2 separate regions of the Homo sapiens genome follow, and region 1 is linked to region 2. A link means that fine-mapping ties the variant in region 2 to the plasma level of a protein whose gene starts in the linked region. Region 2 holds a variant in brackets. A gene starts in the other region. All regions are shown on their forward strands.

Region 1 (2,911 bases), not on the chromosome of region 2:
TTTCTTCCTTTCTGGAGTGCTTCATCCAACTGGGTGCCCAGGCAGGAACCCCTAAGGGCCAATGAGTTGTCTGCAGAGAAGTTCTAGCAGTTCAGGAGAGGAGCTCACCTTAGGCTGGGGCTTGCGGCAGGGATGTTAGCAAAGGCTCCAGGAAAGAGGCCTGTGGTGAACTCGGGGCAGGGCTTTGGAGGGAGGGCTTTGCGGCAAGCAGAGGGGAGGTGAAGGCGTGGGTAGAGTACATCAGGGCAGCATGGAGAAGGCTGGGTGGCTTGGGGGAGGGTGGCGATGGGGTCATAACAAAAACATAAGAAGGTGGTTTGGGGCCAGGTGATGGATGCCTTGGGAACTGCTAGCCCAAGAAGTTTGGGCTTTTTTTGCAGGAGGGCAGCCACTGAGGATTCTTGAGGAGAGAGAGACCATAGAATGAATGAAAGAGTTGGAAAGACTTTAAAGCTCTGGGAGGCTGAATCCTTTATTTCGCTGGAAGAAAAACTGAATGCCAAGAGGGCCTCACTTTCCCCAAAGCTATACAGCCATCAGGGGCAATGCTGGGATTCCCCCATGGATCTCTTGACTCCTAATACAGTGCTCTTTCTGATATGCCATCTGGCTCCATAATGAACATTGTGTTCCAGGAAAATCAGTCTGCGCTGAACAGGATGGAATTGGGGCAGGACGTCCAGTGAGGAGGACATTGAGGCAGTAGAGCAGTTGATTGCCGAATGACCACCTACCCTGACTTAAAAGATCAACCTCAGGGAGGATTGGAGCTTTCTAGAGTCTCTTGGGACAGCAGAAGCACAGGCCGGGTTGGACTGAATCTTTAAGTGGACATGAGGGACAAAGTACCTCCTGTTGGTAAACATCTCACCACCAACCCACTGTGGTGGCTAAAATCCCACCTTTAGTCCCAGCAACATATGAGCATGTCACCAGGAGGTCTTCACAGGCCTGTCTGCCACCTGAGTGTAGACATCTTTTGGCCCTGGAGCCCAGAGAGGCTGAATGTGGAGAGGGTGGAGAGAGGTCTGTAGTCCTCAGAGAAGACTTGCAGCTTTTTCAGAGCCACCAACCCATAAAAAAAAAAATCCCCAAACAGAAAAATCCTAACTGTGGTGACCAGGTACCTCCTGAGACATGAAGCCTCCACTTACCTGGACCCTGGAGGCCTCTCCGGGCACAGCTGCCAATGTTGATCTTAGATAAGACCACCAGCAAGTAAACATCCACTGTGCAAAGCTGTGTTATCTTTGGGGAACTGAAATGTCCCCTGGGAGTTGGAAACTCCCCTAGCCACATACCACAGAGTTGAGGAAGGAAGAGCTGATGGACGGAAGAACCATGGCGGGAGGAGTCATCCGGAAGCTACCTCGCTGCCCTGTCAGTTACGGAACAGAGGAGAGATGCCGGCTGGAGGACACAGCAAATTTGAACCAAGAGGAGCTTGGAGGAAGCCCGAGCGACCTGGAGGGGACTGGCTGACCTTCCTCATTCTTTTCAAGTGTGAATAATAACCAAGCCCAGTTTGGCAACTCCTTGAGGGTGAGGACGAAGCCCCATTCTCCTTTTTGGAACTTGGTGGGGCTCAGGAAGCAGGTTCTCTCCAGTCGGTGGCTTTCCTTTCTGTTGCGGGTCTCTTGAGGGCCTGCCTTCATGAAGGCACATGAGTGACTCATCATTTGTGAATTAATTGCTATATGTGAAGGGCATCTGAGAACAAATTATCTTCATAGACTTTTCATTATAATTTTATTTGTACTGATAATTAGTTGGTTTAGCAAGCTCTTTTTTCATAGATTTGGCTAAACTTCAGTCTGAAAGAGGCAAATTCTGGGGTTCTAGAAAGAGATTTTATTCTTTGATATAGGGCTATTTGGTGGGGTTGCTTTTTGTCCTAGTTGTAGCTTTTATAATTTCGAGATTCACATTTTGCAATAGAAATATACAGGCATACCTTGGAGGCATTACAGCTTTGGTCCCAGACCACAATGAAGCAAGTCACACGAATTTTGTTGGTTTCCCAGTAAATATAAAACGTATGCTGATACCATACTATAGTCTAAGTGTGCAACAGCATATGTCTAAATGAATATACATATATATTTTTTTGAGACAGGTTCTTGCTCTGTCACCCAGGCTGGAGTGCAGTGGCACTATCATGGCTCACTGCAGCCTCCACCTCCCTGGACTAAGATGATCCTCCCACCTCAGGCTCCCAAGTAGCTGGGACTACAGGTCACACCACCACACCCAGTTAATTTTTGTATTTTTTGTAGAGACAGAGTCTTGACATGTTGCCTAGGCTGGTCTTGAACTCCTGGCTTAAGTGATCTGCCTGACTTTGCCTCCCAAAGTGCTGGGATTACAGATGTGTAGTCTTTGAAATCCAGTGTGTGTTCTTACAGTGCATTTCAATTTGGACTAGCCATGTTTCAAATGCTCAGCAGCCACATGCGGCTCATTCTAGATAGGCGGCCATCGCTCTTAAATCCTCCCTGACCTTAGCCATGCTCTCTCATCCCTCCTCTTCGCCAAGCTCTGCCTCTCTCACTGGGGCTTCCCTAGCCTCCGGCCATCTTGGGGCCAAAGCTCTAACACTTTGCCTCTCTCGTGTCTTCTGTTCCCCTCCAGTGGCTTCTGCTTTCTGCCTTAAAATACACCCAGGTTCCTAATCCTGAAAACGTCTGTTGTGCACCGATCCCACCCTCCCCTCGTGTTACCATCTCCATTTCCTTCCCCTTTCCTTGTGTCCTCTTCTTTGCTGTGTCCTGGCCCCTCAAAACTTGACCTTGCCTCTCATCCCCACTGCTGTACTGAAACTGTTGTCTCAGCGTTGCTGATCATCCAGCCTTTTAGTCTATGGACCGCTAAGAGCCATAGGACGACCTCAGGGTGGGACGTGGCTTGGAGG
Region 2 (2,911 bases):
CCTACCATGTGCCAGGCACTGTGTTAGGAAGCATTAAGAAATGGAATAGCATCTTCCCTTCTTCCTTCACCAATGCAAGTTCTTAAAGTGAACATATGACAAGGGCTCTGGTTTAATATTGATTAACCAAAGATGCCAGGTTAATAGCCACAGAGGACCCATAGGAGAAATGACAGTGGCAGATGGTAGCCATTCACCTTCTACTTACTTCCTAGCTCAAGCCACTCACTGGCCCCATCCCCATTGTTGGCTCTATGAACCACAGCAATTGTGTCCAGCAGCAAAAGCCATCCAAGGTGGAGTTGAGACATCCCTGAGGCCCTGGTGAGTAGATCATCTACTTTCCTCTATTCCTAGGCATCAGCATCATGGGTGTTGGGCTATTCCTGGATACAGACGCAGATCATTCGGTTTCTATCCAATATGACTGGTCAGAAGTGCCAAAGGCATGGCACAGGTGCATGGTTCCAAGAAGCCAGCATCCTTGCTCTGCCTTCCTGTGCCAGCACCGTCTCTAGGGTCCTTTCACACTGCTGCAGCCTGGGATATCTTTCTAAAACAAAGTCACACCATGCCTCTGCTCTGCTTGGAAACATCTGATGGCTCCTCACTGCTTTCCAGAAAAGCCCCAACACCTGAGACTGGCAGAACTGGGCCTTTGTGATTCATCTGTTTTATTTGCATTATCTCTCACCACAATCTTAATGCACTTCTCAAATGGCCTGACCATCTCCTGCCTCTGCACCTTTGCTGTTTCCTCTGCCTGGAAAGCATCTCGTGTCACATGTCGCCCCCCTGTGAAGCTCTTCTTGATTCATCCTGGGAGATGGCTGCTCCTTCCTTTGTATTTTACATGCACTAGACAGAGACTTACGGCAGGAGTCAGTCACCCTGCATGCACGCTGATGATATGTTTACTTTTCTCTGCCTCTTAAAGAAAGAGATGAGTCTTTACTTGTTGCATCCTTATAGCCTAGCAGACTGCCTGGTACTGTGCATATTTATTGACTGAAGGAATGAAACCCCAGCAGCTTTGAGCACCCATGCCCCAGACAAGGAGCATCACGTCTAGCAGAAGTAGAAAATACAGTCAGTTGTGTATTTATTGTAGTGAAAGTGTAAATCTGTTCCAATTATATAGACATATTGGGGATAATTTGAGTGTAATGTCAATTTCACATTTGGAAAACACTTAGTGAATTCAGAAGCCTGCATCCAGCTGAATGGAACCACATAGGAGAATACTAACAATGCTCCTGTGTGTACATATGCGCACCTCAAACATCCACCAGC[C/T]GCCTCGGTCCACTGTGTGCACTGGTAAGACACATCCATGCAATATGGAGTCACATCTTTTCCTTCCCATGTCAGATAACCCTTTCTCCACTGCTTCACAGTAACTCACAACCCGCAGCACTTCTGATGCCCACTTCCCTAGGCAAACTTGCCATATTTACTATTGTATAGCATTGATATATTTCTTAACTATTTAACGGGTATAAAACTCTGGTAATCTTTTTATTGGATTCTTATCTTTTAAAAATGTGTTGGCCGGGCACGGTGGCTCATGCCTGTAATCCCAGCACTTTGGGAGGCCGAGGCAGGTGGATCACTTGAGGTCAGGAGTTCGAGACTAGCCTGGCCAACATGGTGAAACCCTGTCTCTACTAAACATACAAAAATTAGCTGGGTATGGTGGTACGCGCATTAGCTAGGCATAGTGGTGTAATCCCCACTACTCAGGAAGCTAAGGCAGGAGAATTGCTTGAACCTGGGAGGCAGAGGTTGCAGTGAGCTGAGATCGTGCCACTGCACTCCAGCCTGGGTGACCAGAACAAGACTCCATCTCAAAACAAACAAAATGTGTCGCTGAGGAAGTTTTCAAGTGTTGTGCTTTTTAAAAAAGTTTATTTCAGAGACAGAGTCTCATTCTGTCACCTAGTCTGGAGTACAGTGGCGTAATCTCGGCTCACGGCAACCTTCGCCTCCCGGGCTCAAGTGATTCTCCTGCCTCAGCCTCCTGAGTAGCTGGAACTACAGGCGCCCACCACCACGCTCAGCTAAATTTTTGTATTTTTGGTAGAGACAGAGTTTCACCGTGTTGGCCAGGCTGGTCTCAAACTCCTGACCTCAAGTGATCCGCCCGCCTCAGCCTCCCAAAGTGCTGGGATTGAAGGCATGAGCCACTGCGCCCGGCCTCAAGTGTTGTGTTTTTAATCCTGTTTTTCCCGTAAGCCCTGTGGTTCTTATCACATGGCTTAGCAAACTCTGGTGATTTTTAGGCTGCATATGTCAGGTTATATAGACCCTACTGCGCCTGTGTGTTCAAAGACAAACATGACTGCCTTGCAGGAGGACCCCAGAGAGGAGCTGCTCAGGGTGCCATTCACCAGAGACTTTGCAGAAACCTGTGCTTCAGGGCCTTAGAGCTACAGCTCATAGAGCCCCTGGCGATTTAATTCAGCTCTAAGAGCTTCAAAAAATCATGGAATTCCATGATTCCAGAGATCAACTGGGCACCAGCCTCTAGACACTTTAACAATCTCTCTCTCTCTCTCTCTCTCTCTCTCTCTCTCTCTCTCTCTCTGCCATAACTCTCTGATGATTCTGGGTCAGTTAACTTTTGAGCCTTGGCATTTTTGTCTGTGAAAGGGGCACACAGATATTCCTTCTTCACAAGCCAGAATAATGAATGAATAAAATAATGTCAGAGATGCACTGGTTCTGCTGGGTAAACAGAAGAGCAATGTCAACAAAGAAAACAGGACCAGAATTGTTCTTTTAGTAAGAAGAAATGAGGAAAGTGGGGATTCCTGGGCAATGTGGGGCTCAGCTTGCCCACGATGTGGCTTTTGGCACTGAAACCTGGGGGTTCCTTTCACTGAAGTCTATGAGCTGCACCCAGAATCTGGTG

Alleles and levels. Positions count from the first base shown, and alleles are read on the strand shown. Strength reflects both the effect of a copy and how common the allele is.
For the plasma level of the protein whose gene starts at base 1,260 in region 1, C is the low allele of the variant in region 2 and T is the other (strong association).

What was found. PIP is the posterior inclusion probability: the model's chance that the variant is causal. The UK Biobank Pharma Proteomics Project read protein levels with antibody pairs (Olink). The fine-mapping took linkage between variants from a reference panel, not from the people measured, so its PIPs are less certain.
Region 1: GHRL starts here. The variant in region 2 is fine-mapped to the plasma level of the GHRL protein (UK Biobank, PIP above 0.99).

Annotation. Positions count from the first base shown.
Region 1 is chr3:10,291,688-10,294,598 of GRCh38, forward strand. GHRL (ghrelin and obestatin prepropeptide) reads right to left here and starts at 1,260. Exons shown (of 6, transcript NM_016362.5): 1 at 1,155-1,260. It overlaps GHRLOS (ghrelin opposite strand/antisense RNA), which reads left to right. Exons shown (of 6, transcript NR_073568.1): 6 at 381-1,762. RefSeq lists enhancers at 1,018-1,087, 1,098-1,347, 1,158-1,452.
Region 2 is chr17:37,714,304-37,717,214 of GRCh38, forward strand. The region is part of intron 4 of HNF1B (HNF1 homeobox B); the gene reads right to left. LOC105371754 (a long non-coding RNA gene) reads left to right here. Exons shown (of 3, transcript XR_001752875.2): 1 at 1-324. Among named protein-coding and RNA genes, the nearest start is that of HNF1B, 29 kb to the right of the region's middle. The variant C/T (reference allele first, on the strand shown) is at 1,294.